3 separate regions of the Homo sapiens genome follow, and regions 2 and 3 are each linked to region 1. The links come from fine-mapping of genetic effects on gene expression. A gene starts in region 1. Each other region holds a variant in brackets. All regions are shown on one strand. Distances are from middle to middle. Region 1 holds the start of MTAP (methylthioadenosine phosphorylase). Region 2 has its middle 66 kb from the start of CDKN2A-AS1. Region 3 overlaps MTAP (methylthioadenosine phosphorylase).

Region 1 (4,244 bases):
GATGTGGTTTTTATTAACCTATTTTGCTCTGGACACTGGCACCTCACATCTTCTATACAGAATGTTGCCTTAGAAGTCTGGGGAATACGGTGCTGGCATCATGGAATCTCTACGGCAAAGCTGTCATCTGTTCTAAATTAAAAGAGAAATCAGCAGGCAGTCCTAGCACCATATGTACCTCTTAATTTTATATCCAGAAGCTTGCCAAGACCAAAAATACACACTATTCAATATTTACATCAGGTCTCTGAGAATCCCATTGCCCATTCTGCACTTAAATGCACTGCATTAATTTGAAGGGAAACCCTGTGGCAGGGAGAATGCTAACCAGATTAAAGTAAGACTGTTTTAAACACCATTTCTCCATTTTTAATGGCGCTTGAAGTGTATTCCTGCAAGGATAAGGTGAAAAGTTGTGGCCTAATGATACCTAACACAATAACTTAATAATTTTTGGGGAAAAGATCATTCAAAATTAATCTCAGTTCCCCCACTTATAAGCACTACCACTTAATAAGCTTCTACCATGTGCAACATAGACAATATAATTCTAGCCCTCCTAGCAAATTCTGCAGTAAAATTCTCAGTTTATAGATGAGCACCTAAGAGAAGTCACATACTTCACACGAGTTTCATGAAAACCATTTCTGCCTTGTTTCCGCCAAACAATGAAGGCAGGGGAGAGGCCTTCTATAAATATTTGCTGGATGCAAGATTCTTTTCAAAATGACAAAATAAGTTTCATATATAAGTCTGGATGCAACACCCTTCACCATTCCTCTCATTCTAAGTGGCTCATTTAAACCTGCAAGGGCGTAATAAACTAATCTGGCTGATTACACACTGACCGCAGAAATTCGCCTTCTCCCGGGAAAACTGCAGTCGAGTGTAGGGAATCGAGATGCTTTGGAGAAGATCGCAGACCTTCCTATCCCATAGGCCAAAAATTTCTAAAAATCAAACAAGAACGCATTCTTAGCCAGTAATAAACTGCCTAGAAGAGGTCTTAAGTTTTATCATCAATTTTTCTTTACGTGCTGTAATTCTCTCTCGGAATACTAACCAGGAGAGAAGTGTTTAAAACCCCAGGGAAGCCAGCTGCTACTCTCAGAACTCGTGCCCTCCTCAGCACAAAGCTTCCCACCGCACAATGACCCCTTGTATCAAGGCCTCTCAGGGCCTAGGGCACAAGGAAATTGAACTCTAACTTGCAAGGCTGCAAAACAAAGCAGTTTCAAGCCAGAGGCCTCCAAACAGTGCAGCCCTAAAAACGGACGCCTGTACTCCTTTTCGAAGAAAGTCTCAGAATTCTTACAGTATTACGCTGCTGGGGAAAACTTCAGCGCGGAGAAGGCCTACGTTTGGAGGAAAAAGAAGCCGGAAGCATACAAAAGAGCAAGTAAGCAGTTCTCCCACGTGGGCCGCAGGCAACAAGCAGAGTCAGAGAGCGGAAGCTGGAGTCCCGCAAGGCACCAGGAGACGGTCACAGAAGCTGCAGGCGCCCGGACACCTCCTGACTCCAGCCGGGTGTCTTTCTTGGAAGAAGAGTGGTTCTCAGGAATGGTGGTGGCATGGGTGCAGCCTCTCCCATCCACGACCTCTCTCTCTAAAGGGGTGCCTACGCCCTACAGGGTGCGGGTGCAGATAAGCCAAAAGGTGGTGTGTGTGTGTGTGTGTGTGTGTGTGTGTGTGTGTGTGTGTGTGTGTGTGTTGGCGGTGCGGCAGGGGGATCATTTGCAAGCGTACCCTCTCCTCGCGCGGCAAGTGAGTCCCGAGTGCCGCGCCCCAGTCCCTCCCCGCGGCGGCAAGGGACGCACGGGCCGGGCGCATGGCCCCCGGAGGCGCGGTCCCCCGGCGCGGGGGCGAGAAGGCATCCGGCAGGGCGAACCGCTGCGGCTGGGAGGGCTCATCTCACCTTCACGGCGGTGGTGGTGGTGCCAGAGGCCATGTCTGCACGGGAAAGGAATCTGCAGTGGGCGAGCGCTCGGGACTAAGGGAACCAAGCGAGCCACAGAGCGGTGGCTGTGCCAACCTCACTGCGCGGGAGTGAGCAGTGCGGAGACCAGGGGCGGGCCTTGACTCCTCCTCTTCCTCCCCGGGACAGCTGGATTGGCTGCTTGTGTGGGATCTCCCCCGCCACCCCTTCCCCAAATCGAAGTTCCCGCGTTCCGCCCCTTTTGCAGACCTTTCCGGTTCTCCAGGTTTTTGTCGTTTTTTTTTTTTTTTTATCCCCAGTTATAACTAACGGATAATGATAATAATGGAGACCATTTATAGAGCGCTGTATTGTTCCAGACTGTGTGTTTTGCACTTTAATTGGCTTACTTAACTTTCGCTAAAACCTTATAAGGAAGAGCAGCACTCCCTGCTTGGCCCAATATTAGTGGCGTCGGAGGCCTCAGCTGCAAAATCTGGCCCGGCGGCATTCCAGAAGTTCTCGCGGGAGGGAGAATCCTCACCAAGGCGGGTACTGGCCGGCCACGGAGATTCTCTTAGGCAGCTAACGCGGGGCGGCCGCCGCGGCGGGGGCAAGATTTGTCCTTCCTGCGGCTGCGAACCCACCGCGGGTTTGCGTATTTCCCTTGATTCCTGGAGGACAGAGCTGGGATGGACTTGACCCAAGACTCAGGGATGACGAAAGGGAAATAAACAGAGTAACGTAGTACTGGATAATCTTTCTGATTTACGAACTATGATTTACTCATCTTCAATTTGAGGGGCCGCTTTTAGGGGGTTGAGACCTTGCACAACTCCCAGTCTGGCTCTACCTGGCTGGGGGCATCTTTAACCCGTTCTACGCCGGAGCGGCATCGAATACACCTGGATTCAGAATCCAAACTCAGGTCTCCGTCATTCAACACTAGCAGGACGCACACACACACACACCACGAGCCCTTTACAGGGATAATCCCTCATGCTTACAGCCCCCGTCCCTTCCCTACTGGGGTAATCCAATTTAACCTTCCTTGATGGATTAAGCGTTCTGAAACAAAATAATGGGTGGCAAGGATCTTAAGGGTGGACTCTGAGATGTAGAAATGCTGCAAATTAGCCTGGACGTGGGAGGAGGGCCGAGAAAGGGGATGCTTTCCTCTTTCCTTACAGCAGCAAAACACGGAAACAAAACACAAGTACAATTTAATTCAAAATACCACTGTGTGATGTTAGCCTGGATGCTGCTCATAGAACCTATTTACTTAAACAGTATAGACTTTCGTCCTCACATTACTATAAGCTTTAGGTCTAAATTTTCTCACAATGTAAAGTTTTCTTTCTTCTGTTACAATCATCTATTTCTTTTAAGTTATAAAATGCAATGGCAAAAGAAGAATGAAAGTAGAATCCGGGTGCTCCTTTGAGGAATAGGAGACAGGGAATCCTTCGCGGATGAAGACAATGTAGCTTTCTAGGGGCCTTTCTGCCGATTGCTCTATTGAGGAGCAGGAAGCCCACCACTCAGAAGTGAACCATTGAGGGCACAGGGATGCCCTAGGCTTTATGGCCGCTACCTAAGTAGGGGATCCTAGCCAACTTAAGTGACTTGATATGGTTAACAAGTCCAGTTTCTACTCAGCACTGCCTCTCTGCTAAAAGTTAGACGTTGTAACCAAGTTAGATCCTGTAAGCATAAAATACCCCTAGGCATAGGAGTTGGAAACTTGGCGAGGACCAGGCTGGACTTCTGGACTTTTCTACTATAACTTGCAGGTTAGGGCTCAAGCATTTGCTCTTGAAGATGTGATGTCTGTGAAGAGGAAATTCTTCTAAAGTTTGAATTTCATGTAAACTTACATGTGACAAAATATTATTCTACTTTTGATATTTTCTCAACCACTTAAGATTGTAAAAAAGCATTCTCAGTTCAAAGCTGTACAAAAACAGGTGGAGAGCTGGGTTTGGTCGAGGTCTTGGGCCATTGTTTTCCGCTCAGGGTAGTGCCTGAATCAGACGACCCCTTGCTACCCAGACTTGGATAACCCTTGGGCAGTCCTGTGGGACAGTGCTTTCTTTAGTGCAGTATCTTTGAAAAGGTAGGCAGTAATATTTTTGCCTTATTTCCAAATTTTGGGTCATGTTTTTTCTTAACAAGCCCTAAAATAAAAGGAAGACAAAATTTTCAATAATTTTGAATACGCAAAAATTTTCAGTGGTCTCCCTTTTTGATTACTATGTCAACAAGACAAGGAGAGTCGGTCTATTTGTGAACATAGATTTTGCCCTGCCCTTCTGTTCTTATCCTATAA
Region 2 (4,244 bases), 99 kb before region 1:
TCCAGAAGCATTTTCTTCTGGAAATTCTCCTTTGCATATTATCAGTAAAGGATGTTTCTGAGTTGGGCCTGAAGATTTTTAAAAAAAAATCTTTTGTCATATATTTCAGGATAACTTGTTCACGAAAGCCATGGATCGTCGTTTTGCAGCAAGCCTAAGTATGCCTCCCCCAGACTCACTGGCAGCTGGAGTCTAAATATAGTATAGTCCATGTATCCACCTTCTGAAATATCCTGCAATTGAAGTCATCTAACAAAGCAGGCCCCATTCAATGCTACAGAAAGCAGCCGGAAATCCTCCAATCCTCCTTCCTCATTTGTAATCACTATACTTAAGGAGAAGACAACACAGCCTCATTTTCAGATAGCTGCACATTTAGTTGAATTCATCTTTTCCACAATGCCTTTTTATAATGTTTACAATTTACCTTTTAAATTCTTTACATTTTGGTGGGAATTTCAGTTTTTATTTATATAGAAGATAGTTTCATTTTAAAGTAAACAAGCATAATGTGTTGATATTTCTGTTCTTACCTTAATCATTTGCTTTTGTAACTGGTGAATTCAGTTTTGTTTAACAGCCCTTAAAGGTAATAAAAGAGATTTTCTATTCTATCCACACCTCCAGGCATTCTGGGTTCTGTTCTGGTAGATCCAAGAATAACCTAGACCAAGTTAAATTGATCCAAGAAAGTTACATATATGGATGTATTAAAAACCCTGATGAAAACAGTAAATAAATGCAGGATTATAACTACATTATTGGATTGAGAATACTTAGGTCAGAAAGTTCATAAGGGAACAAGTAACAATTTGTAATCTTAATTTAAGTCCCTCTAAGGATTGACTTCACTGGTTATGTAGAAAACTTGAAAGTGGATGGTGTATGGTTATTGTCACATTTGTCATGTTGTTTTGGTTGTGTACCAGTATAACTAGTTTTTATGTTTGGGGAATTCATAGTATTACAGACATGTGCTAAGTGTGGATGATCCATTATAGGAGCTAAAAATACCAGATGCTTACTTTTCCTTCCTCTTTTGCAGGTAGGGCATAGGCATGCGACTTAAGACTCTGAACTAAATGCTACCAGATGGGATCTGACTCATGAGCTACAGGAAACAAGGGTTTGAAGGGACACTAGCTTAGCAGGTGGAAATGGTAGTATCTGTGGAACTGGAGGAAGCTGTTTTATCTCCAGACCAATTCTAAAACATGCTTCAGTGTGTCTTTCCTAGTGGCTTAGCCTTGAGCCTCTACTTCAGTTCTTCCTAGTAGATTTTGTGAGCTATTGCAATATCGTTTAGCGAATTACTCTTTTGCTTGACTCAGCTGGAGATGGCACCTGTTCCTTGCCTGTAGGAACCCAGACTGAAAGCTATTTCTCATACATTCTACTTAGGGATTTCATGTGGACTTAACATGTTGCCTCATTTCTACTTTTGAACACTGTAACATTTGTCATATTTTCCTTTTTGTTATTTCTAGCAGCTAGAAAACTCAAACAAATTTGGAACTTGATCATAGCACACAGAGTAATCTCTACAATCAGTAAAACTAGCTTACTTCTGTTTTTCTTCACTGTTTTAAATTTATTTGTATTGTGATGGCATTGGCTGTAAATAGCCTATGAGAAAATGTCACAAGCTTCTCCAGGCCCATGTGGGTTCCTCATAACCTCATTTCCTCCTTGTGGCAAACCCCTGAGACTCAGTTGTTTTCCTTTGCCCTTATAGCTGCTACTAACCTTTTTTAAAAACTCCATACACCTGGCAAAGGAGGTTGAGGTATCCTCCCTAGTCCTTTATTCCCTTTCTTTGATTCCTAATAAAAGCTCGTTTATAGGTTTTATAGTTAATAATCATATGAAAAACTAGCAAAATGCAAGTAGCCAAGAATCTAAAATGTGGCAATTTTCTGTGCCTGATGTCTGATTCTTTATGAGATAGTCAATCAAAGTGTCATTAGGATTCTGTATCCCTTTTAATTTTCAAGCTTCATTACTTTTCCTCCTGTGCTATTAAACTTAAAATTGTTTTTGTTATGAATACTAAAAAAATTTAAAAGGCTCAACTCTTCAATTTTTTAAACTGGAATTGTATTGGATAGTTTATATTAAGGAGAACTAACATTTTTGTAACATTGAGCCTTTCCATCTATGAAGACCTCTCTTTATTTAGGTTGTCTTTAGTATCTTCTTTTTCTTTTGTCAATGTGTATTTTGGTATTTTCTTTACAAGTTTTGTTTTAGGGATGCCTGTGCAGGTGTGTTACAATGGTAAACTGTATGTCATGGAGTTTGGTATACAGATTATTCCATCACCCAGGTAATAAGCATAGTACCTAAGAGGTAGTTTTTCAATCCTAACTCTCCTCTCACTCTGCATCCTTAGGTGGGCCTTGGCATCAGTTGTTCCCTTCTTTGTGT[T/C]CATGTGTACTCAGTGTTTAGCTTCTACTTATAAGTGAGAATATGAGGTATTTGGTTTTCTGTTCTTGCGTTAGTTTACTTAGGATAATAGTCTCCAGCTACATCCATGCTGCTGCAAAAGACATTATTTTGTTCTTTCTCATGGCTGCATAGTATTGCGTGATGTATATTTACCTCTTTTTCTTTACCCAGTCCACTGTTGATGGGCATCAAGGTTGATTCCATGTCTTTGCTATTGTGAATAGTGCTGTGATGAACATAAGCATGCATGAGTCTTTATGGTTGAACAGTTTATATTCGTTTGGGTATATACCCAGTAATGGGATTGCTGGGTTGAATGGTAGTTTTGTTTTTAAATCCTTTGAGAAATCTCCAAACCGCTTTCCACAGTGGCTGAACTAATTTACATTCCCACCAGCAGTGTATTAGTGTCCCATTTTCCCTGCAATCTCACCAGCTTCTGATATTTTTGGCTTTTTAATAGTAGCCATTCTGACTGGTGTGATATGGTATTTCATTGTGGCTTTGATTTGTATTTGTTTAATTATTAGTGATGTTGAGCATTTTTGTCATATGCTTGTTGGCTGCATGTACATCTTCTTTGGAAAAGTGTCTGTTCATTTCGTTTGCCCATTTTTAAATTTTTTTCCTTGTTAATTTGTTTAAGTTCCTTATAGATTCTGGATATTAGAGTCAGTTGCATAGCTTACAAATATTTTCTCCCATTCTGTAGGTTGTCTGTTTAATCTGTTTATAGTTTCTTTTGCTGTGCAGAAGATCTTTAGTTTAATTAGGTCCCACTTGTCAATTTTTGTTCTTGTTGCAATTGCTTTTGGAGTCTTCCTGATGATATATTTGCCAAGGCCTATGTCTAGAATGGTATTTCCTAGGTTTTCTTCTAGGGTTTTTATAGTTCTAGGTTTTACATTTAAGTGTTTAATGCATCCTGAGTTGATTTTTGTATATGGTATAAGGAAGGGGTCCAGTTTCAGTCTTCTGTATATGGCTAGCCAGTTATCCCAGCACCATTTATTGAATAGGGAGTCCTTTCCCCATTGCTTGTTTTTGTCAACTTTGTCAAAGATCAGATGATTGTAGGTGTGCAGCTTTATTTCTGGGTTCTCTACTCTGTTCCATTGATTTGTGTTTCTGTTTTTGTACCAGTACTGATATGGTTTGGCTCTGTGTTCCCATCCAAATCTCACCTTGAATTGTAATCTGCATAATACCCACGTGTCAAGGGCGGGACCAGGTGGAGATAATTGGATGGGGGTGGTTTCCCCATGTTGTTCTCATGACAATGAGTGAGTCTCACAAGATCTGATGGTTTTATAAGCATCTGGCATGTACCCTGCTTGCACTCACTCTGTCCTGCCACCCTGTAAAGAAGGTGTCTTGCTTCCCGTTCACCTTCCACCATGACTGTAAGTTTCCTGAGGCCTCCCCAGCCATGCTGAACTGTGAGTCAACTGAACCTCTCTCCTTTATAAATTACCCAATCTTGGGCAGTTCTTTCTTTTCCTTCCTTCCTTTCCTTTCCTTCCTTCCCTCCCCTCCTTCCCCTTCCCCTTCCCCTTCTCCTTCCTTCCTTCCATTATTGTACTTTAAGTTATGCGGTACATATGCACAACGTGCAAGTTTGTTACATATGTATACATGTGCCATGTTGGTGTGCTGCACCCGTTAACTTGTCATTTACATTAGGTATATCTTCTAATGCTATCCCTCCCCCCTCCCCCCACCCCACAACAGGCCCCGGTGTGTGATGTTCCCCTTCCTGTGTCCAGGTGTTCTCATTATTCAATTCTCACCTATGA
Region 3 (4,244 bases), 24 kb before region 1:
ATTCTCTTAGGGATCCTTCTTTTTTTTTGAGATGGAGTTTCACTCTTGTTGCCTAGGCTGGAGTGCAATGGAGCAATCTCGGTTCACTGTAACCTCTGCCTCCTGGGTTCAAGCAATTCTCCTGCCTCAGCCTTCCGAGTAGCTGGGATTACAGGTGCTCACCACACCTGGCTACTTTTTTTTTGTATTTTTAGTAAAGACGGGGTTTCACCATGTTGACCAGGCTGGTCTCGAACTCCTGACCTCAGGTGATCTGCCTGCCTCAGCCTCCCAAAATGTTGGGATTACAGGCGTGAGCCACTGCACCCTGCCAGGGATCCTTCTTTTAACAGATTCTTTCCTCCTGTTGTTGTAAAGTAGTGTCAACTAGTGGACCCTCCAGCCAGTATGCACACACTCTCAATAATGGCACTCAGTTACTGAGAAGGTTAACACATGCAAGATCCCACAAAAGGCACTTATTAGAGACTTTGAACTTCCAAGGAAACATTAAGAGGGCAGGTTATCCATATGTCTCATAAACAGAAAAATAGTAGAAGATCTTAAGGTTACCTGGCTAAGATAGAATGAAACCAGATCTGATGGCAATACCTGTTTTCTTTCTAGTCTCCATCTTCTGACCCAACTGCTTTCTTGAAAGAGCCAGTATGTGAAACATCTACATTTAAGACATGTGAGTAAAAGATCTGGGAAATGCAACAGCGTATAGTCATACTGTTTAAGTAACAGATTAACCCAAGGCTCAGTGCCCAATTCAGACTTTACAGTATCATCTGTAATACTTTATACATCTGGATCATCCTGAATATGGAGTTTTGTATTCCACTCTATTTAGCAATCATATTATAATCATTTTCTTAAACTATTACCTCCAAACACATGGACGTTGACAGCCATTGAGATTTTGATCAAGATGTCTCCAAAACACAAACTCCAGCCTATCTCTCTATTCAAATGACTATGTTCAAGCCCTCAAAAATTACTGACAGAGCAAAGATGGGCCAGGAACTGTTGTGGGTGTTGGTGATATGGTGCAAACTGGGCAGAAAGTGACTTTGATCTCACATGGCTTAGAGGGAAACAGGTCACAAATATATAATGTCAGGTATAAATACATTATAAGGACATAACTTGGGGTGAGAAATATGTAACCATTTTAGTCTAACCCCATTATTTATTAGGTTGAACCACATGAAACTGCTGATATTCAACCATTTCTGACCTACAGAATGGGCAATTTCAAAACAGTTTCATTCCATCAGGAAACAACCAAGAATGCTTCTGATAGACTGGAAATTATAATGAATCCCTGAAAGGCAGAAGCCACAGTGGCCTGGACTGGACAACCCTCTCTCCCATAGCAGAAGCTCTAGGAGCAGGCTGTGAGTACAGTAAGCTCAGAGATAACTGATGGGAGGAGCAGCATGGACTGAGGTGGTAGGCAGGGTGATTGGATGGGGGATTGTGGAAGGATCCCCAAATGATTTAACTCTGCGCTACTCTCCACTCTCCATCCAGCCCAGGAGGCTCCTGTCTTCACCCAGAGCATTCTGAGAGGCAATTATTTCTACCAGGAATAGGGGAGGGGGTGGCCCTAGTACAGCTGCCCCTAATCTTTTTGGCACCGGGGACTGATTTCATGGAAGATAATTTTTCCACAGAGAGGGTCAGAGGGGATGGTTTCAGGATGAAACTCTTCCACCTCAGATCATCAGGCATTAGTTAGATTTTCATAAGGAGTGCACAACACAGATCCCTTCCACGTGCAGTTCACAATTGGGTTCCTGCTCCTATGAGACTCTAATGCTGCTGCTGATCTGACAGGATGGGGAGCTCAGGTGGTAATGCTCGCTCTCGCCCCACGGCTCACCTTCTTCTGTGCAGCCCGGTTCCTAACAAGCCACAGGGGTGGGGGATCCCTGACCTAGAGACCACCACTTTCCCTTGTGATTTCAACTACCTCTAAATGCAGAAAAGGTCCAAAAATTTGGCAGTCTATTATTGTTGTTTTTTTGGGGGGGTAAAGGAACAATATATATTACTTGTGCAGTTAAATAATAATAATAATAATAATAATAATAATAATAATAATAAACAAAACCCCAGCACCTCTGGCACCTGATCGATCGCATTATGAAGGGACAACTGGACATCACATGCCTTC[C/T]GACAGGATGCAGAAGGAAGGATCCTTGCCAAGAATTCAAACCTGGTTCTGATCAGGCCACCAGAACTAAATCCAGTTTATAGCAAACACAGGGGCCGGGAGAAGACACTAAATGACACTTGATACAATTAGTAACATCCAGAATGTGGATAGGCAGTAAAAGGAAAAGGAAAAAAGAAGGTGGAATCTTCCAGACTAGAAGGCTTATTAAGCTTATGTGTGTAATGAGTGGACCCTTATTTGAACAAACCAACTATTAAAAAAAAAGTTCATGAGACAATAGAGAGAACTTCCTAGATATCTAATACTAAGGAAATACTAATTTATACTCTCTTTAAAAAAAAAAAAAAAGAAAATGTTCTCTTGAAGCTAGGAATTAGGAACTTAGAGAGTCCCTGATTATTATTCTTTTGTGTATATGTTTAAAAATTCCCATAATATAAAGAGACAGCCTATAGATAGGAAAAAAATGTTTACAAACCATACCTCGGATAAGGGGTTAATACCCAAAATACGTAAGGAAACTAAATGAAAGAAAGTTCTAAAAACACAACCTGATTAAAAAAATAGGCAAAGGACTTGAATAGACATTCCTCAAAAGAAGACACATAAATGGACAACAGCTGTATGAAAAATGCTCAACATCACTAATCATCAAGAAAATGCAAATAAAAACCACAATAAGATATCACCTCACACCTGAATGGCTTTTTTGCTGTCACCCAGGCTGGAGTGTAGTGGTGCATTCATGAATCATTCTAGCCTTGACCTCCCAGGCTCAAGCGATTCTCCCACCTCAGTCTCTTAAGTATCTGGGACAATGGCTGTATATCAACACACATGGCTAATTTTTGTTTTATTTTTTACAGAGACAAGGTCTCACTATGTTGCCCAAGCTGGTCTCAAACTTCTGGGCTCAAGCAATCCTCTTGCTTCAACCTCTCAAAGTGCTAGGATTACAGGCGTGAACCACTGTGCCAGGCCACAATGGCCATTATCAAAATGACAAAACAAAGTAAGTGTTGATGAGGATGTGACAAAAACAGAACCCTTGTATACTGCTGGTAGGAATATAAATTAATACAGCCATTACTAAAATTCCCCAAAAAACTGAAAATATCAACTACCACATGATCCAAGAATCCCATCTCAGAGTGTATAAGGAAATGAAATTTTACGTCAAGAAAGACATCAGCACTTCCATGGTCCCTGCAGCATTATTCACAATAGCCAAGATATGGAAGCAACATAAACGTCCATCAACAGATGAACAGATAAAGAAAATGTGGGAGAGGCGGTTCCAAGATGGCCTAATAGGAACAGCTCCAGTCTACAGCTCCCAGCATGAGCAATGCAGAAGACAGGTGATTTCTGTATTTCCAACTTAGGTACCGGGTTCATCTCACTGGGGCTTGTCGGACAGTGGGTGCCGGAGAGCGGGTGCAGCCCATCGAGTGTGAGCCAAAGCAGGGTGAGGCATCGCCTCACCTAGGAAGCGTAAGGGGTCAAGGAATTCCCTTTCCTAGCAAAGGGAAGGGGTGACAGACGGCACCTGGAAAATCGGGTCACTGCCACCCTAATACTGTGCTTTTCCAACTGTCTTAGCAAACGGCACACCAGGAGATTATATCCCGTGCATAGCTCGGAGGGTCCCACGCCCACAGAGCCTCGCTTATTGCTAGCACAGCAGCCTGAGATCAAACTGCAAGGCGGCGGCAAGGCTGGGGGATGGGCGCCCACCACTGCTGAGGCTTGAGTAGGTAAACAAAGTGGCTGGGAAGCTCTAACTGGGTGGAGCCCACCACAGCTCAAGGAGGCCTGCCTGCCTCTGTAGACTCCAACTCTGGGGGCAGGGCATAGCCAAACAAAAGGCAGCAGAAACCTCTGCAGACTTAAATGTCCCTGTCTGACAGCTTTGAAGAGAGTAGTGGTTCTCCCAGCACAGAGTTTGAGATCTGAGAATGGACAGACTGCCTCCTCAGGTGGGTCCCTGAACCCCGAGTAGGCTAACTGTGAGGCACCCCCCAGTAGGGCAGACTGACACCTCACACGGCTGGGTACCCCTCTGAGACGAAGCTTC

Evidence for each region. PIP is the estimated chance that this variant, and not a neighbour inherited with it, causes the effect.
Region 2: its variant is the best candidate, but not a certain one, in a credible set for the expression of MTAP in prefrontal cortex (GTEx, PIP 0.86).
Region 3: its variant is the best candidate, but not a certain one, in a credible set for the expression of MTAP in lung (TOPMed, PIP 0.69).

Annotation. Positions count from the first base shown.
Region 1 is chr9:21,800,453-21,804,696 of GRCh38, reverse strand. It overlaps MTAP (methylthioadenosine phosphorylase), which reads right to left and starts at 2,061. Exons shown (of 8, transcript NM_002451.4): 1 at 1,916-2,061. The coding sequence starts at 1,948. RefSeq lists enhancers at 1,219-1,428, 1,923-2,551, 2,552-3,182 and a silencer at 1,719-1,878.
Region 2 is chr9:21,899,162-21,903,405 of GRCh38, reverse strand. It overlaps a transcript of MTAP not described here. Among named protein-coding and RNA genes, the nearest start is that of CDKN2A-AS1, 66 kb to the left of the region's middle. The variant T/C (reference allele first, on the strand shown) is at 2,428.
Region 3 is chr9:21,824,460-21,828,703 of GRCh38, reverse strand. The region is part of intron 4 of MTAP (methylthioadenosine phosphorylase); the gene reads right to left. Among named protein-coding and RNA genes, the nearest start is that of MTAP, 24 kb to the right of the region's middle. The variant C/T (reference allele first, on the strand shown) is at 2,165.